Linked DNA regions of Homo sapiens: regions 1 and 3 are each reported to be linked to region 2. Evidence: microRNA targets listed by miRTarBase, many of them from high-throughput screens and not tested one by one. Region 2 holds a microRNA gene; each other region holds the end of a gene's coding sequence.
The links. The annotated mature microRNA hsa-miR-429 reads UAAUACUGUCUGGUAAAACCGU and lies in region 2 at 2,579-2,600, shown strand. An mRNA with a match to its seed (bases 2 to 7 or 8) in the 3' UTR can be bound and repressed. Matches are read on the target gene's strand: a 7mer-m8 pairs with bases 2 to 8, a 7mer-A1 pairs with bases 2 to 7 and ends in A, and an 8mer does both.

Region 1: the mRNA of SHOX2 is a reported target of hsa-miR-429. Seed matches in the 3' UTR shown: 8mer at 2,626-2,633.
Region 3: the mRNA of ZFHX4 is a reported target of hsa-miR-429. Seed matches in the 3' UTR shown: 7mer-A1 at 1,972-1,978.

Annotation. Positions count from the first base shown.
Region 1 is chr3:158,092,139-158,099,332 of GRCh38, reverse strand. SHOX2 (SHOX homeobox 2) reads left to right here. Exons shown (of 5, transcript NM_001163678.2): 5 at 1,049-3,428. The coding sequence ends at 1,306. Among named protein-coding and RNA genes, the nearest start is that of SHOX2, 11 kb to the left of the region's middle. RefSeq lists an enhancer at 1,166-1,335.
Region 2 is chr1:1,166,477-1,173,670 of GRCh38, forward strand. MIR429 (microRNA 429) reads left to right here and starts at 2,529; the gene lies at 2,529-2,611. It overlaps MIR200BHG (MIR200B, MIR200A and MIR429 host gene), which reads left to right. Exons shown (of 2, transcript XR_007065348.1): 2 at 1-3,862. MIR200B (microRNA 200b) reads left to right here and starts at 628; the gene lies at 628-722. It overlaps MIR200A (microRNA 200a), which reads left to right and starts at 1,387; the gene lies at 1,387-1,476. It also overlaps TTLL10-AS1. RefSeq lists an enhancer at 4,330-4,897.
Region 3 is chr8:76,863,934-76,871,127 of GRCh38, forward strand. ZFHX4 (zinc finger homeobox 4) reads left to right here. Exons shown (of 11, transcript NM_024721.5): 11 at 1-3,348. The coding sequence ends at 632. Among named protein-coding and RNA genes, the nearest start is that of MIR3149, 99 kb to the right of the region's middle.

The DNA of each region.
Region 1 (7,194 bases), not on the chromosome of region 2:
TTCCCAGGGCTGCCCTGCCTTTGCAATCCCTTAGCCATAAAGAAACCTTTAAGAGTACATTTTAAAAGGACAGCCTGCAGCAATGATTTAATCCTGGGAAATCCCAGTGCTCTGAACTCCCCACTTTCCAAGCCTGAGGGCGAAATCCTTTCCCAACCAGTGTCTGACCTTCCCTATCCTCAGCCAGGACCCCTGCTTGGCATGCCTGTGATGTCATGAATTAGCTCTCAGTCTCCAGTGACTTGGACCGGGGAGACAGATAGGTGTGACCATGAATTGAGAGTCGGTGTTAGGGAGATCTTAGCTCTCTTGGTGCCACAGGACTCTGGCATCCTGATGCTTGGCTTTGGAAACAAGAGAGAATGACTGAAGAAAGAGGGAGGGGTGACTTTAAAAGGAGACCTTTACTACTCAAAAGGTAATCTTTGGGCCAGCAGCAACAACACCGTCTGGGAGATTGTTAGAAATTCAGAATCTCAGGCCCCAACCTAGACCTTGCGAATCAGAATCTGAATTTTAACGAGATCCCTGGGTAATTGTTATGGCAATAAAGGTTAGAAGTACCGACTCACAATTGTGCCTATTGTGGTGAAGATGGAGTAACTTCCCTGAATGACATTAAAAAGTTGCGTAGTTTGCTTGTTGATACTCCGTTGTTTTGGTAGTGGGGTAAGAGATGCATGGCAGCATCAAGAGAAGAGGGTAAGGGTCCTCACCCGCAGTCTTTCCAATATACCATTTCAGCCCAGTTCCCAGGGGAGACGGCCACATTCCTGCAGAAGGGGGTTCCCGGGGTCCGGGGAAATAAGCCTACCCTAAGCGAGTTTCGGAGACCCAGGGGACACTGGAGTATCCATGTGGAACCCCAGATTCAGCAACAGGCTGAGAAGGTCACTGTCGGAACAAGATGCACAGCCAAATGCCCTCTCCCCGTGCCCAAACACAACCCAACTCTCTCTCTGGCCAAGCTGGACGCCGTTAATGCTCTGTTTCTATTCTGTTGTCACCCTAGGATAGTCATTGCAACGTGACGCCCTTGTCCTTTCAGGTTCAGGCGCAGCTGCAGCTGGACAGCGCTGTGGCGCACGCGCACCACCACCTGCATCCGCACCTGGCCGCGCACGCGCCCTACATGATGTTCCCAGCACCGCCCTTCGGACTGCCGCTCGCCACGCTGGCCGCGGATTCGGCTTCCGCCGCCTCGGTAGTGGCGGCCGCAGCAGCCGCCAAGACCACCAGCAAGAACTCCAGCATCGCCGATCTCAGACTGAAAGCCAAAAAGCACGCCGCAGCCCTGGGTCTGTGACGCCAACGCCAGCACCAATGTCGCGCCTGTCCCGCGGCACTCAGCCTGCACGCCCTCCGCGCCCCGCTGCTTCTCCGTTACCCCTTTGAGACCTCGGGAGCCGGCCCTCTTCCCGCCTCACTGACCATCCCTCGTCCCCTATCGCATCTTGGACTCGGAAAGCCAGACTCCACGCAGGACCAGGGATCTCACGAGGCACGCAGGCTCCGTGGCTCCTGCCCGTTTTCCTACTCGAGGGCCTAGAATTGGGTTTTGTAGGAGCGGGTTTGGGGGAGTCTGGAGAGAGACTGGACAGGGGAGTGCTGGAACCGCGGAGTTTGGCTCACCGCAAAGCTGCAACGATGGACTCTTGCATAGAAAAAAAAATCTTGTTAACAATGAAAAAATGAGCAAACAAAAAAATCGAAAGACAAACGGGAGAGAAAAAGAGGAAGGGAACTTATTTCTTAACTGCTATTTGGCAGAAGCTGAAATTGGAGAACCAAGGAGCAAAAACAAATTTTAAAATTAAAGTATTTTATACATTTAAAAATATGGAAAAACAACCCAGACGATTCTCGAGAGACTGGGGGGAGTTACCAACTTAAATGTGTGTTTTTAAAAATGCGCTAAGAAGGCAAAGCAGAAAGAAGAGGTATACTTATTTAAAAAACTAAGATGAAAAAAGTGCGCAGCTGGGAAGTTCACAGGTTTTGAAACTGACCTTTTTCTGCGAAGTTCACGTTAACACGAGAAATTTGATGAGAGAGGCGGGCCTCCTTTTACGTTGAATCAGATGCTTTGAGTTTAAACCCACCATGTATGGAAGAGCAAGAAAAGAGAAAATATTAAAACGAGGAGAGAGAAAAATAATATTAACACAAAAAAATGCCACAGACAATGATTTCTCTGAGAAATTATTATGGCAAAACTGTCTGGACTGCTGACAGTAAATTCCGGTTTGCATGTTACTTGTATTCCATTGATGGTGTGTCTCCTCCCACCCCCTTATCTCCCATGCACTCACTCCATTTTCATCTTCACTATGAAAAACAATACCAAAAGTATCTGGAAATTGATATATATATATCCATATATATATATCATATATTTGCCATATATATATATATATATATATATATATATATATATATATATTTGCCCTGTCTTTGATCCTGGGGAACAAAAGAAAAAAGTCAGAAAGGGAAAAAATTACACTCATTGTCCTAAGAAGACAGAGGTGGGCAGAATATGTGGGGAAAGGAAAAAGAAAACAAGACCACCAAATGAAATAATGAAGGTACAGCGCCTCGCTGTGCCAGACACAGTAGGCGCTCAATCAGTATTAGTTCCCACCATTCCCCTTTTCTTGTGTTCCTTCTTGTTGGTTTCCTGAAGTCCTATTTGAAGACAGTGGTTTATTTCCCCCTCTCTATCCCGTCAAATTCACCTTAAATAACACCCAGCTAGATACAGGCACTAGGTTTGTGTAAGATATGTTGATACACACGAACAAAGTTTATTTTGACTATAATGTGTGGACTGACTTTCAACATTTGCATTTTATCTCACAAAGGTGTATCTATTCAAGTAACCTTTTTTTTTTGTTTGTTTGTTTCTTTTTTGTTTTTTTTTTTCTTTTGGTTGTTTGTTTCAATTCATGTAGCTATTTAAACTGGGATACCTTGGACTAAGCCAGTCTGTATCCCAATTCGCTAGCAAGCCTAAGTTTGTGGGGTTTTGTTTTTGTTTTTGTTTTACCTTCTAATTTACAAGAAAGAGGAAAAGCTCTTCTAACTGAACTTTGGTATGCGGTTGAGCTTTGTAACTATTTGTTCTCCATGAAAACAAAATTATTTATATTTGACATATTTTTTTCTAGTGTATTAAGTTATTTTAAACAAAAGATGTTATCTCATGACGTGTTGTCAGTACAAAATGTGTCGCCTCCAATTCTGTTAAACCTTTTAAATAAGTGCCAAGTTATTAATTGAAGACACTTTGCGATCAATTGAATGAAAATATCGTTTCATTTGATGGGGTTCGAGTCATCTTTGTTCCTGTTACTATTAAAATATCCGGGATAGTCTTTCCCTTTTGATTAATGCGTATCACTCTCTCGAATATACCAACTTGGAAAAGCGCTTGCCTCTGCTCTTACGTGCCGCAGTCAAGGGGCAGTAAGAAGGGTGGCTCTGTGGCTGTCGTTAGCGCTGAGCGCATTTCCGCCGGCCCCCTCCATTTTATCCACCCAGCATAGAAACAGGGTTATACCAAATTAATGAAAGAACAGATAAGAAGTAAAATAACATAGGATAGAGTAACTTCCTTCCCCAAGATGGACTCTCGTTATTCGTTTTGCTATAATTCCAGTCTTTATCTGGGGACACTTTTGGGAGGAAGGAAGGAGGGATCCTGCGGAGCGAAATCAACCTGGGTTTGGTATGGCATAATCGACAATCAGTCCCAGTTCGTTGACCCTCTCTGGAGCGGGGCAGGTGCTGACTTCGGAGCGGGAAAAGAGCCGCAAAGGCGGGCAGGCCAGGGCACTGTGGAGGGAGGATTCCCCATCTGACACTCCTGTTTAGGGTTGGCTGAAGCAGCTTCTTCATTGGTTAAATTTAGAAGGTGGAAGCCAGAATCGGGTTTAGGAAAAGCCTGGCCTTGAAAATAATGAGGAGCTCTCTCTCCCCATGTCGTGGCCCCCTTCTGGAAGAAATCCCACTAGTAAAGCCCAAAGGTGCTGCCTGTGTGGGGATAGTTGGAGACTTTGAAGACTCGGCCCTGACCATGTCCAAGGCAGGAACTTTCCTTCCCGCGCGGGCTCTTGTGATGACGGGACCTTCCGCAAAGACTGAAAGAGTCCTGAGCGTCCCCTGGGACCCCCCACCCTCGTGCTGGAGGGTGCGTAAAACCCCTGCCAAAGCCCCACATCCTCCAGCAGTGTTCCCCACCACCCCCACTTGGCCCTCTCCCAGGTCTTAGCTCGTATTCAAAGCTGTTCCTCAGCATAGACGTGGGCGATAGGTTTCTTTCTTTTAACTTTCAAAGACCACTGAACAGGATTTGGGCCGTATTCAGTGCGCAGGCCTTGCGGGTCTCCTGGTTGATGAACGTCGGTAGTTTTTAATAATAAACATCTGCCTGCGGGCATGGTACGCCCTGAAGCAGCCAGGCCATCCGCCGTGGTCCTGTGGCCTCCAGCGAGCTCCAGTCGGCGCCGGGGCCGGGGGTCCTAACAGGCAGGCTCCAAGCTCCAAACCCTAATCCTAACCCAGATCCCAACACGGGTTCGGACCCTGGAGACCCTGGAGCAGGGGAGATGGTGGCTCCCTCTCGGGGCCAGTCTGCCCCAAGCAGCGGAGCGCGGGGGAAGCCCGAGGTCAAAGGAGGCGGTGCGTCCAGGCCCTGCTGGCGGAGGCGCCGGGTATCGGTACAGAGGCTCAGTGACGCGGCGTGGGTGGGTCGGGAATGTCCCGTGCGATAGGAGCCAGGTGGGTTCGGCGCGGAGACCCGCGGGAGTCGGGCCGCGGCGGGAGCGCGGTAGGCGGAGAGGCCCGCGGAGGCAGCCAGGTCCGGCGAGAAAGGCCAAAATTTCTTGGCCCCATTCGCAGTGCTCCACTCGGGCACGGCCTGTGGGACCAGTGCATCCGGGGAGCTCGCGGCGCCCTTGCCTCCTCTTGCGTCTGCTCCCCCAAGACTAACGGAGGACAGAGGCCGCTTTCCTTGGCCCTGTGGAGTCTCGCCCTTCGGGTCCAGACTCCCGCAAGGCCTGCTCTCCCGGAATGCCAGTGTCCAAACTCTGGGGCAGGCGCCTCGGTGTGTGAACAAGAGTTCCAAACTCGTAGTTCCCCGAACCATCCCAAGAAGGGGTCTGAGGAATTCACTTTAAATTTAAATAAGGCCCAACATGCTTGTAGTTTGGGTCGAAACTCAATAATCCTAATATAATTAATAAAGGACACCCCCATCCTCTGCTCCCCAAATCTTTTGGGCATGCAAAACCTTCCCGAGTTGCAAAATCAATGACTGGGAAAAACTGAGTTAAAAGAGATTGTTTAAGACATCATTAGTGTTAAGGACCCTATGATACAAGAGACACAGTAAGATAGTAAGATCGGTGCCTTTGCTTGGAGCTGAACTGATGTACATCTATTTTGAGTTTTTCCCCAGATTTATAACTTTTTTGGGTCCTCAGATGGTAATACTTTAGTATAATGCAATGCTCAAATTTCGGAACTATTTTGATTTCTGAAAAATGCCTCTTTGGCTTCAGCGACATAGGATCCTGTTTTTTCTTCACAAATCAGTTTACATCATAAATTGCAAACATTTGCAATAAGATCTCAAGATTGTTTATTTTACATAACCTCAAGCACTTGACTATGTTAAACACCAGTACAGAAAATCTGTGAAATCAGTTTAATGTGTGTGAGGGAATTAAAGGATCACTCATTTTCATCACATAAACAAAGCATTTAAGATTGTTTTGATTGTCAGTCTCCCAATTTTTAGTCATACAACTGACTATTAATTTAAGAGTCATTCTGTGTAAAAATAATTACTGAGGTTATATCCTGCTTTAATTAAATATTTCTGGGCAGAAGAAAATGGTATTGTACATTGGGAAGTGGGGGATTGTTTTTAATATTATATTATTTTAGTTCAAACGGAAATAAAAGTCTGCAAATTCCAACGGGGAAAAAAGGCCTGAAATGGTTTCTTAATATGCCATTAAAACAGTTAGCCAAAATACATTAAAGCAATATCACAAACCCAGAAATAATAAATATGTCATTCTAATGAGAATGTTAACTTACAGATAATTTATTCAAGGTAGTTTTTACATTTCACATGGAATGTCTTATTATGACCCGCTTGATTACTGTGATGCTTGTTCTTCAAAATCTAATTTATATAGGCCTGCAATATACATAATTCATAACTCCTGTTGATATACGTATACACACCCCAAATTTTAAATCTTTACAGTATGTTTGGATGTTTACTAGCATGTTTTCAAGATGACGAAAATAAAAACATAAAAAGTGTTAAACATCATATTGAAAGCAAGTGCTTGCCCTGCCCTATGCCTGAAGGCAAAGTAGCTGAAAATGAAAAAATTAAAAAGGATTAGATAATTTTCAAGCTCAGGCATTGAGTGAGCACTGAAATATTTCAGACAAAAAAAAATCTTGTATAAGAAATCTGAAAATCCCAAGAAAGACTTACAGATGTGAGTGTATAACACTTCTGATGCCTAGACAATTTTTTTTTTGGTGTCTAATTCATGAAACAAAAAATCCTCGAGTCTCGGGGTATTTTGTTTTGGGTATTTTACATGTCAGTCAAGGTAACCATTACATATGCCTTCGGTGCAGGAAAGTTTAGTATAATACGCGGAGTTCTATTGGCATGAGGAAAGGTTTTAGAATATAATCAAATACATCAAATAGGGAGGAGTAAACATGCTTCTTTTCTTGCTGAACAACTCCTCATATGTCCTGAGTAAGGATCTTTGTAGACTCTTATTCAAGCAGAATAGTGTATGTTTAAGAGCACACACTGTGGAGCTATGCTTCACTGCTGGATTCAAATTTCACTGCTACTGTTTACCAGTCCTCTGATTTTGGACAAGTTAATCTCTCTGTCCCTCAGTTTCCTTATCTGTAAAATGTGGATAAAAATAGTGTCTATCTCATGGAATGGTTAGGAGGATTAAATGAGTTAATATTTGTAAAACCCTTAGAACAATGCCTTGCATATGTATACTAAGTACTAAATAATAATTACTTTTATTAAAAGGCCAATAGACATTGACCTTTGTAATAAAAACCTTAAAAGAAAAAAACAATAAAGTGTTGCAAGACAAGAAAAGCTTTCTCTTGTGGGCAAGAAGAAAACATTGC
Region 2 (7,194 bases):
CGCAGGGACGGCTGGGCAGGGTCAGGAGCCTGCCCCGCCCGCACCCCCACCCACACCCCCACCCCCACCCCCGCCTGCACCCCCTGCCCTCAGACGCTGTGCAGTGAGCGGGGCAGCATGGGAGAGGGGTCTCCAGGTGGCGGGGACCGTTCTGTCTCGAGAGCCTCGCAGACACCGGGCCTTTGAGAAGAGAAGGGGCTGGGCAGGGAAGCAGCTCCTGGAACACCATCCTGGAGACAGAGGCCCTTGTCCCCTGCCTCAGACAAGGCAGCACGTGGGGCCCGGGGGGCTGGGGCTGCTGTCCAGGCCTTCCTATGGGACCACCCAGAGGGAAGGTCCCCCGCAGAGGGGTGGGGGCAGAGGGCCGAGCGGGGCGGGCAGAGGGCCCGTGTCAGCCCCACTCCGACCTAGTCCTCGGCCGTCTGGCCAGGACACTTCGGCCCCCCAGGTGCCCACCCCAGGACCCAAAGCTGGTGGCTGCTGGACTCGGCAGGGCTGGCGGGTGGGGCTCACCCGGGCCCCTGCCCTCCGGCGATGCTGTCCTCAGTGCCCCAGGAGGACGAGGCCCCCCAGCTACTGAGCTTCCCAGCGAGTCCCATGCAACCCTCAGCCGGGCGGCCCCCGGACCCAGCTCGGGCAGCCGTGGCCATCTTACTGGGCAGCATTGGATGGAGTCAGGTCTCTAATACTGCCTGGTAATGATGACGGCGGAGCCCTGCACGCAGCGACCGGCCGACCCCGTCCCGGCCCCCAGGGCCTCCCGCCGAGCCCCACACTCCCCTCCCACACAGCCCGCTCACCGGACCCCACCCCGTCCGGGCCAGATGGCTCTGGGGAGAGTGACGGGGGGACGTGACCTTCGGAAGGGGGCTGGGGCGCCCCCCACCAGCATCTCAGAGACCCCGGAATGCAAGGCCTCCTGCAGCTGCACCCAGGGCGCCCCACAGTGATCTGGGGATTAGGACGCTCAGGTGTCCGGGCCCTGCCCACAGCGCCTGGGCGGGAGCTGCTGTCACACCCAGCAGGTGCGGGCCGAGCAGGACCCAACAGAGGGCTCAGGAGGGCAAGGCCCAACCGGGAGCCACGTGGAACCCAGAGGAAGCCGCCCCACCCAGCTTGGCCACAGCCATCTTCCCTCCTGCCGGACAGGGTGGGCCGGCCACCGAGCAGACCAGTGCCCCCGCCTTGGTCCCGGGTCAGCAGCCCCAGGGTCCCCTTGCCCTGGAGGAAGCAGGGAGGGTGGGCCTGTGTGCAGTCTCAGGGCCCCCAAGCCCCTCTCCGCCAGCCCTGTCCGGTCCCGGCACCACCCCTGGCTGCTCACCGCTCCGGTTCTTCCCTGGGCTTCCACAGCAGCCCCTGCCTGCCTGGCGGGACCCCACGTCCCTCCCGGGCCCCTGTGAGCATCTTACCGGACAGTGCTGGATTTCCCAGCTTGACTCTAACACTGTCTGGTAACGATGTTCAAAGGTGACCCGCCGCTCGCCGGGGACACCACCGAGGCACATCCGGAGCTCCTACTCCAGGGATGGGCTGGGGCGGAGGGCCGAGCGGGGCCAGCAGACGGGTGAGGGCGGAGGGCCGAGCGGGGCCAGCAGACGGGTGAGGGCGGAGGGCCGAGCGGGGCCAGCAGACGGGTGAGGGCGGAGGGCTGAGCGGGCGGCAGAGGGCCTGTGTCAGCTCCGAAGTCCAGCCCCCAGGGGAGGGGCCGGCCTCTGCCGGGGGTGCCCCCGGGGTCACTCACGCCCAGGCTGGGTCTGACACCTTGAGGACCCCTTGGTGCCTCCACAGGTGGCCTGGAGGGCATCCTGCTCCCCCTCCCGGAGCCGCTGTGCCTCCCCCACCCAACCTCCCAGGCTGGGTTTTAGGGTGACCTGGCTCCAGGAAAGGCCATAGGGCTGGGATGCCAGGGCTGGAGAGGGAAGAGCAACAGTGGCCTCTCTCACGTGGTCCGGGCTCCGTGGAGGGTCTGCTGGGGGCGCAGGAAGGACAAGGTGGGTTCAGATTCCCGAGCCCCACCATGCAGGGGAGCGGGGACGCTCTGCGCTTGCCCTCTGAGGGACAAGGGGTCTCATTCCTTCCCCCAGTCAACAAGAACAGGAACTTTGTCCAAAACCCACCAGGCCAGGATGACCCATTGTTTCATCTTTTCCATCTGCAACCAGGGCGCCTGGGACCGCACCCCCACACAAGGCCCCAGCCTGGGGAGGGGGCAGCCACCGGGGAGAGGCTGCCCTTCACTGTTACTCATTAACCCGACCGAGCTTCAGGAAGCCAGCGAGGGGCTGCAGGGAACCTTTGCCAAGAGCAGGGCCTGGGTGACCAGGTGGCTCCCGGGTACCCCCACACAGCCAGGCTGGGCTGGGACCAGGTGCTGGGATGGGGGCTGTCAGGGAAGTGCCTCGGGGGCTCGTTCTGCAGACCCAGGAGGGATCAGGGCAGCTGCAGGAGGTGGCAGGAGCCGCCCCCGGGGCCTTCCCTTCACAGGCCCCGCAGACACCAGCCCAGGACCCGGAGGCCACCCACACCACCGCCGGCCGATGGGCGTCTTACCAGACATGGTTAGACCTGGCCCTCTGTCTAATACTGTCTGGTAAAACCGTCCATCCGCTGCCTGATCACCGTTAGAGGAGAGAGCTGCCTGCCCTGCAGCTCATCAGTGCAAAGCCGCCCGGTCTGGGGCTCTCATGCCCCCCTCACTATGGCCTGTGCCCATCCGCAGCCCATCAGTGCAAAGCCGCCGGGGTCTGGGGCTCTTGTGCCCCACCCTCGCCATGGCCTGTGCCCACCCGGCCTCCTGGGGCCCTCGAGCTGTAGTCCCCGGGCAGATGCTGTGGACCCCGTGCTATCAGCCTGGCCCCTGGGGTCACAGTCACAGATACCCGGAGCCCCACCCCACAGCCCCAGCCCCCTCGCCACCTGGGGAGGCTGAGACAGAAGCAGCTGGGCCCCCCAAAGTGCCTGAGCCCAGGGCACGGAGGAGCACAAATGCCCAGCAGGGACAATGTCACAGCGTCTCAGCGGCCAGGCAGCAGGACGCAGAGACCTCTGGGAGGTTCCCGGGGCCAGCCCTGGCCCTCCTCCTCCAGGGGCCAGCCGTGGGATGCAGACCACACTCTCCCTCCAGGGCCCATCTCTGGGGCTGAGGCGGGCGGGGCCGGTGCCCAGCTGCAAGACCATGGGATAGGGAAGGCAGGTGCTTGGGGCCACGCAGCCCTGCACTGGGGGCCCCTCCACCCCAGGCGGCTCACGAGGTGTCATCTGGAGCTGTCCCCAAGCCGGGATCTGCAGGTTGACCTCCCCCACCCGGGGCTATCTCCAGACCCTCTTTCCTCCCTGGGGAGATGGGGCAGTCCCCCGCAGGGCCAGCTGAAACCACCCCCATGCTGCTGCCGCCTGAGCGACGTGTGTGGGGAAGAACTTGGAGTGCCACCCCCAGAATGTGGCGTCCACCTCACCAGACCGCACGGGTGAGCCCTGGACTGCAAGGTGCATATAACACAAGGTTTGGACACACCTGGAGAGCTCGGGCCAGGCAGGGCCACACCTGTGAGCCTGAGCTCATCCAACACCGCCCGGAGCTCGGGGACCTTCCCCATCCCAGCACCTCCTCACCGCTGTGCCCGTCTGGCCAGTCCCTCCAAGCACCCCTCGGATGAAGTTGCGCCCCACACTGCAGTGGGGCTCACTCTCCACAGCGCCTGCTGCGTTGCACGGGGTGTGACAGGAAGGACCCTGCTGGGGCTGGCGGGGCCGTACCCAGAGCCTCCCTGTGCGGTTTCTCCTCCTCCTCCTCCTCTCCATAAGCACCGGGAACAAAACAGAAAAAAGTCTTTGTATAGTAATAAAGTCTGCAGTTCACGCACCCATGCTTGGACCAGCTCCTTATTTTAACCACACGTGCACAGACCCCCGCCGTGCAAAGGGCCCAGCTGAGGACAGAACCCCAGACACTGCATCCGGCCCCGGAGGCCCCCAAGGTTCCTGGGAGAGGCTCCCTCCCTCCCTTCCCTCCTCTTTCCCTCCCCCTCCTCCTTCCTCTCCTCCATCCCTCCTTCCCCCTCCTCCCTCCTCCTCCTCTCTCCGTCCCTCCCTCCCTCCTTCTTTTGCTCAGGAATCTTCCCTGACTCTCCTGTGGTCAGCTCAGGTCAAGGTTCTGGGGGAAGGGGGAGTCCCTGAGTGGAGACACCTCAGCCTGTGCTGAAGGGAGCTACCGAGGGGGCAGCCGGTGGCCCTGGGGGGCCTCTCTGAGCAGGTGACCAAGAGCGTATGGTGCCGGCCAGCAGGAGCGAGGGCTGCGGACAGGATGGAGGCAGCCAGGCGCCAGCCAGGAGGGCTTCCTGGTCCAGCCACACCTGCCCCGGTGACAGCCACAGGTTGGTGGCAAAGGGGCCACCTCCCTTCCAGTGGCAGGGCCTGGCCTGCCTGGAGACCCCACCCACTGCCCGAGAGGTGCCAGGCCTCCCCCATTCTGCCTGGCCCTGGGGGCTGCACCCACCTGGACACGCGGGCCGGGCACACCCACGGCCCAAGGTCCTGCTCCCACCTGCCCTGCGCAGGAACCTTGCTGGGGCTACAGGTATCCGTGGCTGCCACACCACCCAGATTTTGGGATTAAGGGGCAGAGTTTTCAAGTTTGAACTCAGGAAAGCTGTGAGGGACGAGGTAGTGCCTGGCTGGGGAGCCTGGGGGCTTCTGAGGGCGGTGGGGAGTCCTCAGGCCTGTGTGGGGCCCCAGGGAGGGGAGGCTGCAGGGGTTGGGGGACCTGCCCGCTGCACCCCCTCTCCCCCCACACAAGGAAACCCGTCCTCCGAGGTGTGTGTCCAGATCACATCCTCCAAAGGCCGGTGCGCCACAAAGATGAACACGGGGCTCTCCCTCCCAGCCCAGGGGCAAGGACCCTGCCTTGCTCTGTTCCCGGAAGGGCCAGTTCTGGAGAGGAGCTGGGCGAGTCCTTCCCATCCCCATCAGCTCCTGTCAGGCCACCTGCCTCAGCCTCAGGGAGGAGGGGACACACGTAGGCCCCTTCCCAGAGTCAGAGCTTCCGAACCCGGATCTGCTGCTCCCAGCCTGGAGAGCCACAGCAGCCACCGAAGGAACCCCCCACCCGTCACCCCCACCAAGTGGGCCCTGCTCCCCGAAGGCCCAGCCACTCAGCCCAGGACCTGCCCCAGCCCCACCTGCCACCTGACCTGAGGCTCCCAGAGGGCAGAGGGGCCTCCTGGGTCTGCTCCGCACCAGGGTCCAGCGGGACCATCTCAAAGCTTGAGCACCAGGCGCAAGGTGGGAGTGCGGGGAGGGGACGAGGACACTGTTCCCAGCTGGACAGAACCAGGAGGACGGTGGGAGACGCCCCCCACCGCCCCGCTTCCGAGAGCTCTCTCTTCCTTCCAGGGACTCCCCAGGGACAGCCGGGGCCCCTTCTTCCCCCACAGCTCAGGCCCCAGGGACACAGAGCGGGGAACCCCCAGGCTGCCGCCCCGGCGTGGGTCGGGGAGGCGGCTCCGGAGCGGGCACCACACTCTCGAAAGGGTGGCTTCTCCTCCCGGCTGCTGAAAAACCACACAGGCAGGCACAACAACAGACGCTTACGCCCGCATCTGGAGGCCAGAACTCCAAAGCCACAGGGCAGGCAGGGCTGCACCCCTCTGGGGGCTCCAGGAGAGGACCCTGTCTGCCTCCCCAGCCCCTGCCAGCTCAGGCATCAGTGGCTGTGGCCGTGTCACCCATCTCTGCCCCCCAGTCCCACGGCGTCTCCCCCACGTCTGCGTCTCCTCTCTCCACCTCCCTCTCAGGGGGGCAGAGGCCATTGATTCAGGGCCTGCCCTGGGTGATGTCACTAGAGATCCTGACGTAACCCCACCTGCAAAGCCCCTTCTTCTAAATAAGGTCACATTCGAGGTTTCAGGGCTATGATGTGGTTGTCTTTTGGGGGCACCACCAGCCCCCTGCAAGGGGACCCTAAGCACAGAGGCCCTCGTGACCCACGCAAAGCTCTGAAGGACACGGATGGGTAGGGGACACGTGGCTGGAGGCTCAGAGTTTGAGGCAGAGGGGATCAGACCGTGCCATGGGTCATGCCAGGAGCCCAGGACTCCCAGACCTCGTATCATTAGGTGTTTTAAAGAGAAGGCGAGGGCAGGCCAGGCGCAGTGACTCACGCCTGTAATCCCAGCACTTTGGGAGGCCGAGGCGGGCGGATCACCTGAGGTCAGGAGTTCAAGAGCAGCCTGGCCAACATGATGAAACCCTCTAAAATTAATAATAAATTAATAATAAAATAATTATAATAATATAGAAAATAATATATAAAATAATAAATATATAAAATATAAAACAAAATAAAAATAAAAAATAAAATTAATATTAAAAATACAAAAATTAGCTGGGCACTGTGGTGGGCACCTGTAATCCCAGCTACTCGGGAGGCTGAGGCAGGAGAATTGCTTGATCCTGGGAGGCGGAGGTTGCAGTGAGCCGAGACCGTACCATTGCACTCCAGCCTGGGCAAAAGAGTGAGACTCCGTATTTTGAAAAAAAAAAAAGAGAGAATGTGAGGGTTAAACAAAGACACACAGAGATGGAGAAAGGGCAGCCTTACATCAACACGGGTACATTGCAAACACCTGCAGAGGTGGGGGACCAGCTGGATGCCAGAGCCCACTGCCGCCTACGGGCTGGGGTGCCTATAGGTATGGGTGGGAGCGGCCCGGGCCACACGGCTTCAGGATGAGGCCGTTTGTTTGGCCCTTGTTCCCGCAGAAGGTAATCGTGATGTTCCTCGGTGTTTTTCCCCGCAGAGTGTTCAAGTCAGGTGTCGGGCAGGCTGTTCCTCACGGCCCAAACCCCTGCGGAATGCTTCACTTTGGCCGAGGTCTGTGACACAGCGAGGGGCTTACAGAAAGGTGCAGTTTGGACCGATAGATGTGAGTCCCCCTCTGGGGGGCACTCACTTTGTGGAGCCCCCGGTTCCTGTTTGCAGAGGGGGGCACAGTGGCACCTCGTCCGCTGTGGAGTGAGAACAGGGACCCGACCACGTGAAGCACAGAGAATGCTCAGGGATCGGCAGCCGTGTATCCAGCCAACATCACCAGGGTGCACGCAGAGCCTGGCCCGGGCCAGGTCCTGGGGTGCTGAGCATGGGTGGGGCCTGAGAGACGGCTCAGGGACCATCCTGGGAGGGCCGGGCGGAGGGGC
Region 3 (7,194 bases), not on the chromosome of region 2:
AGTGCCAGATGATGTTTACTGATGAAGACGCCGCAGTAAATCATCAAAAGTCCTTCTGTTATTTCGGTCAGCCTTTGATTGACCCACAAGAGACAGTGCTTCGTGTCCCAGTCAGCAAATATCAGTGTCTTGCCTGTGATGTGGCTATCAGTGGGAATGAAGCACTTAGCCAACACCTCCAGTCAAGCTTGCACAAAGAGAAAACAATCAAACAAGCAATGAGAAATGCCAAAGAGCATGTTAGATTATTACCTCACTCAGTCTGCTCCCCTAATCCTAACACCACATCTACCTCGCAGTCTGCAGCTTCTTCTAATAACACCTATCCTCATCTTTCTTGCTTCTCCATGAAGTCCTGGCCTAATATCCTTTTCCAAGCGTCTGCCAGGAGAGCTGCTTCTCCCCCTTCTTCTCCTCCTTCCCTTTCCTTGCCTTCAACGGTTACCTCAAGTTTGTGCAGCACCTCAGGGGTTCAAACCTCACTACCCACAGAAAGTTGTTCAGATGAGTCTGACAGTGAGCTGAGCCAGAAGCTAGAAGACTTAGATAATTCTTTGGAAGTGAAGGCTAAGCCTGCTTCTGGCCTAGATGGTAATTTCAATAGCATCCGAATGGATATGTTCAGTGTGTAGGAGTGAAGACAGGATCCCGTGCTTAAAAAAATAAAAAATAAAAAAATAAAAAAAAAATAAGACTTTAACTGCAGTTCCAAAGCTTCTCTAACCCAAAAATTACAGTACCAAATGATTGACTCAGGATTGTTTTTCCCATATTGATATGCTGGCAATATAGGATGGTATGTAATGGACAGAACTGATGCAGATGGTTGAATGCGCTTGTACTATATGCTAAAATATGGAAAAGGAAAAAAAAATCTCACAAGTTCTTTTGGAACTTGTTTCAAGCCAAAAACTCTCAAGAAAGCAAATTGCACCTCAGCTGGATTGATTTCCAAATGCTAGCATGTACTGTATGGGAGGATGATCCAGATGTTTCAAAGAGAATTTCTCTTAGTTTAGTTAGGTGTAATTCAGTAGCTTTAAATTCTCAGGTCAGAACATAACATTTCTCATTTGTTAAAAGCAGCAAGAAGCCTGGTAAAACTGTGACTTTTCCCCAAACGTCAATCTTTATTAGAAAGCATTTTCTAGGTGTGTTTAGTGTACAAAGAGACTTTATAACCCTTACTGGACAACACACAGATCCTTGAGCTCACGCTGCAGGATAGTACAGTTTTACCGCAGAGGGAATCTGGAACAGTGGAATCATGTGTCTGCCCTGTGTATTGCAGTTTGTATTGCCACAAGCTATATTTATACCAGTGTCACCCTTTTCTTGTAGAATATACTAATAATCTGTGCCAACTCTACCTTCTCACTTTTACCTCTGACGTCATTCTTTTTTTCTGAAAGAGGTAATAATTCTAGTTTTGATAGACTCTGAGGATTATGTGAACAGGACATTTTTCATTTGTGAATTTAATGCTATACTGTCAAGGTACTTGCTTGTGTCTGAACTCTAGTGCACTTATGATTTTGTAGACCATGTGAAATTTAATAAGATACCTTTTTTTTCCTTTCTTTGTGTGTAGTGCAGCAACAGTTTGGTCTGCATTTGTTAGAAGTTTAACTCCTAACAACCCAAAGACCTATTTAACAATTGGTGCATAAATGAAAGTAGTACTGTATACTTGAAACTGTTTAAGTACAAGTTGAACAAAAATTATGAAAAGGTATATTTGCTTCTCGGGAAAGCAAAGAAGCTGCTTTAAAAAATAAAAAGGGGACTAAAAATTTGTTTTGTATAAAGAGGTTAGCCCTGCGCACGTAGGACTGAATTCAGTGATATCCCTATACACTGCCATTTAGTGGATAGGTTATTGTACTTCCATTCATACTCTGGGCACTTGTGTTGTATTGTTCTGTTACATACTTTTTTTAACCTGTTTTGTTTTATCATATATGCATTAAAAGTATTATCTTTATCAACATTTGCTGCTACTGTGTTAACATTTTTGTTTTGCTTGCCATGAATTTCAACTTCCACCACCCAGTGAATTGATTTATAAATTGCTATGCTTTGCTGTTTTTCTGTTGCTGTGGAACTTAAAGAATGTGAAAGCTGTCAAAGGGTATTTTACGAATCACTTTTGTGTTTGATATAGTAAAACAATGTGATTCATTCCAAAGTAACAGAAGGTTATTTGTAAGAAAGTTAAAGGCTTGTGAACAAAGAAAGCTAAGCTGTTGTACATATTTGTAGTTGGCTGTGCATGGTACAAATTTATTAATATGAAGAAATGCAAAATGTATTGCTTTTGATATTTCTCTTCCGAGATGAACAAGTAGCATGTAATGCAACTGTTTGACAGTTTAACTCAAGTCATGCTTCAAACTGTTTTAATGATCAAATCAAGACACATTTCATTTTACATTTTATTATTGTACAGTTTTTGTTTCGGATGATGATCACAGCAATCTTTATTCTATACATTTTATGTGAACTTTTTTAATGTCTTTAATTTGGATTTTTTTTTTTTTTAGTATTTTAACATTTATTTTAATCCTGAAGACACTTTTTTGATTGTGTTTCGTAAGAGACAACATGGCCTCCTAAGGTGCAATCCTGCCGCTATAGTGAGCTAATGTCCTGAATCCAAAGGCTTCAGAAAATTGCTTTTGCCTTTTTCATGAATGTTAAGCAGCAGCATTGTGAGATCGATCTGTCCTGGCAGTTAACACGATGTGCAACAGTGTGTTAGCATGGAACAGAACGCTTTTCACAAAACAAAGGACTGTTTTACAAATGATTATTCCGACAGTGTGTCGACATAAACTTTTACAACTGCACAGCAGCCAAAAAAAGAAAAAAAAAAGAAAAAAAACTTTAACTGGATGGACGTTGTTAGGGTGAGAAATAAAAGGACAGCCTCCAAAGGTTGAGAATGAGAATTGTTTTTTCCTGGATATCAAAGGGATTATCACAGCGCAATCATTGTCTACACAACATGTACTCTCAACGCCTGGGTTACATAGGAAATGCACCCTGAGGTTTTAATAAAAGCCCCTATGGCTATAACTTTAAATAAACTAAACCAAAAATGTTATTGATGTTTTATATATAGAGAGTAGTCTCATTAGTTTTTGTTACTGTAATGTTTGAAGTCTCAAATGCACCGTATTACGGTAAATAACATGGTTTTGAAAACTTTTTTTTATTTTGTCACAGACCTGTTGTCATAGTTGAAATGATGTTTATTGTAGATGGTATTTGAACTTATTCTTCTGGAAATAGTTCATCAAGTATGTTTGTTGCTCATTGTGATACATTAAAAACTGTATCTACATATTTACTATGTGTTTTCTTTCTGAGTTGACTTTGCAATATTTGCACAAGGTATTAATTTCCCCCACCTGAAGGTGACTTAAGGGAGGCCACTTGAATTACCAGATTGCTCTAACAGGAGTCTGTGTTAAGCAGCCACTAAGCAATCCAGAAAAATAGACACATGGATTATTAAAAGTTAAATAACGGCATTATTGTCAACACATTTTAATGGCACAAAAATGTTAGCATGTCACATAAATAATTGTGATTTTTTTTAGGCCAATTCTATATCCTTTAACAGGCAAACTCATGCTTCTCAGTAGCACTCTTTATGCCTACAATGGGTATCCACACTTTAATGTTCCATATGCTGCATGCCCTGTTAGATTTTAAAATCTGGCAAACAGATTTTGACAAATGGAATAATTTCATTTCAGAGTTCATTAACTTATTACTTTTAGTATTACTGCTAGAATTTCAACACCTGTATGTTGCTTTTGGATATAGACCAGACACTTTTTCATTTATACTGAATGCAAACATTCCCTCTCACAAAGCTCACTTCATCTGCGAGTCAGCTAAAGAAGAAATGAAAGGTCCATTCTGCTTAGTGTTCTCAGTGGGTTCTCACCCCTAGCCCTCTCAACTGAACACAGAAAACTTTTAATTCAGAGCATCGCTTTTCAACCCACTCTTATCATTGATAATGGCAGAAGGCAAAGCATTTTGCACGTGGTTTTTCTTCCTTATTCTGCTCTTTGCTCAGACCCACCAATTTCACTCAAGTTGGAAAGCCCCCAAAGAAACGAATTCTGTGTTATAAGGTACAGATAAACCTCAAATAGAAAATATAAATAGGTTGATTTGGAAATGTAGTAGAGGTTCCCTTGTTTTACATGCTTTCTTGGCATTATCGAGCTATTTTCTAGTGCATCACTGGAAGTGAATAAAAGCTGCTTTCATTGTATTAGGCAGGTCACAACTCTTTTCCTGTTGGCAGCAGTGACAGAAAACCATTAGGATAAGGCTAGATTGTAGCTTCTGTGCTGAAATCAAATATTCAAAAGGCAAAACATTTAACACACTACGCTTGTACCTCTGAGACCATGTTTTAAGTTTGAGGCCAAGTTCAGGTCCCTGTTAAAATGAACTTTCTGATCTTGGTTCCCTCCCTAGTGATCACTTGTCTGCATTGAAAAACTGAATGTTAACCTGACTTTTTTTTTCCTAACATAGAAAAGCCTGGATTGTCATGGTAAAAGATATATTTCCTCATGTATAAAAGTATTCCTGTATAATATTTATTGTAGGACCAGAAGGGCCTTGTTCAAATGCCATTAAAGGGAGAAAGCAAAGCCCCATGGTGGTATCAGAGGAAGTATTATTTCTCTAGTGAACCAAATTCACATGTTTTAGCAGATCAAAAGTAGCAATGAACTTGGTAAGGTTAGCCTACCTACCTATCACAAAAATGATGGTATAGTTCCATGGGATTTTTATTTTGCTCTTTTCAAGAGTGAACCAATAAGTTGGTTACTGGTTGAACCAGTACTGTTAGAGCCCCAAACCCCACTCCCACTGGACTAGACTAGATTCCCAGAGTTTTGTGCCCACACTGGCTCATTTTCCTGCAATGTGTGTTTACTGTATATCCATTTATTGAACAACAAAATATTCTAGGTATGGTCCCTAAAGATGTAGCCTGTCATATAGTAGATATTCAAACTCAGGAAAAGGATAACCTCACTTGTAAATAGTTCTCTATGAGTTTTATACAGTGAGTTTGGGAGTCTCTACTCTACGCAACACTATATGGACATCTTTCCATTTTATCCTCACAGTAACCCACAAAAGTAAGTGATATGAGCCTTTCCTCTTCTATAAATGAGAATTGAAAATTTGATGCTCTCCAGCTGATGCAGCAGAGGTAGGATTGAGTGTCAGGTTTATCTGGGATCAAAGTACTGCCCCTTAGCTGTCTTCTCCATTTTAAAGTGTTCTCTTGTTACAAGGCTAGTTTTAGTATTATATATGGAGGCTTCAAACATGGCTGTGTATTTCAGGGCCTCAAGTAATTCCAAATATGCCAGACTGTCTTGATATTCTCCATTGTAGAGGTCTTCAAGATGGACCACCCTCACACCTCCAACCACATTTTCCAATTTTATCTTTACCCTGCACAACATACCCTCTGCATCCAAGTCAAATCTCACTACTCATTTTCATGGTCAGAACTTGTTTGACTTTACTCATCTGGTCTTGGCTTGCATGTATTAGTACAGAAATCAAACTGCAAACTCAGATATACAGAAATATAACTTTATTTTTCTCTAATCAACTTAATTTCTATTTGAATTCCTCTTTCTACTGTGATTAAGAAAAGTTAATAGAAGTCAAGCAGGAATTAATACATAAATTTCAGGGCCCAGTGCAAAATGGAAATGCAAACCCCTTGTTAAAAAATTATTCAAAATCATGAGATGGCAAAAGCAAAGCATTGAACCAAGCACTGAACCAAGCACTGGACTCTTCTGAAGGACAGAGTCCTATGTGACCGCATAGGTCACACACTCATGAAGCTGGCCTTACCGTCAATTTTGGATTCCTCCTGTCCCTGTGATTATGTCTAAATTCTGGGGGACTTACATGGTACACATTGTGGAAAGGAGACATTGAATGCTTGGTGTCCACTTTCCGTGATATCTGCTGAGGGAGCCCCTCTCTTTGGCCTTTCCTTTTTGGTCCAAGAAAGTTGCCTCATTCTCATCCGATGCTCTTCTACCTCCTGCCACTGTTGCTCCAGGGAACAACTTAAAGGTCAAGAAGACCTTTAAGTCTGCCTTATACCAAAACTCATCCCTGCCCTCAAACTCTCATCTATCTAGTGGTCCCGCCCCCTCTTGGAACTTTGCTAGAGGGGAAACACAGGATCCTATTTGAGGATCCTTTCACTCCACTTAACCTAGAGCATCCTGACCTTGTCCCAGGCCTGGAGGTTTGCATCTTTTTTGAGTTTCTTCTGTACCCTGAATCCTTTTTATTCCCTTCAAGCCCTAAGCTATGGAACCACAAAACCCAGGAAGGGGTTCCCTTCTCTCTCTTCCTTCTGCTTTTGACATACCCTGAAATAGAGAATATCCCAAAGTAAAGTCGTCCCAGGGGAGCAGAAATTATGAAGTTGTTTGGGAGTGCTGGGGTTGGGAGGTAAGAGTGAAATATTGGGAGGAAAAAAATTGATTGATATTTAAATATATTATCTGGCTGCATATGATATTCCCAGGGTTGTAAGGAATATATGTGTGAGCCCCACAGTGGGTATTGAACTCACCACCTCCTTAGATACCCTATGCCATTTTTAGAAACAACTTTCATTACCTTAAATATTCCCTTTAGTGTTTATAAAACTTACACAAGTAATCGCTATGTCATAAGTGTTTTACATTAATACATTAACTCGTATGAACTAATTTAATCTTCCCAAGAAGCCTACCAAGCAGGCAGTATTATTATGCTGTTATAAAGATAAGGAGAGTGAGCTACAGAGATATTAAGTGATGTGCTCAAGGTCCCATAGTGAAGGAGTCACTGAACCTGAATTTGAACTCAGGCAGAGAAATTCTAGAGACCTTATCTTAACCACTATTCCCTCTCACTTCCCCAAGAAGAGAACAAATTTTGCATTGGTGTAACTCCTATCTGCAGGTACTAGGGTAATGTGAGATAAAATGGAACAAATCTAATCATTGCTATGAAATAGTGGAAAGCCTTCCAAACTTGAGTCACTTATCCAGCTTTCATGGCCACCTTCAACTCCTGTTTCCCCTCTGAACCATTCTCCTACCCCAAACACTAACACACAGATGTAAG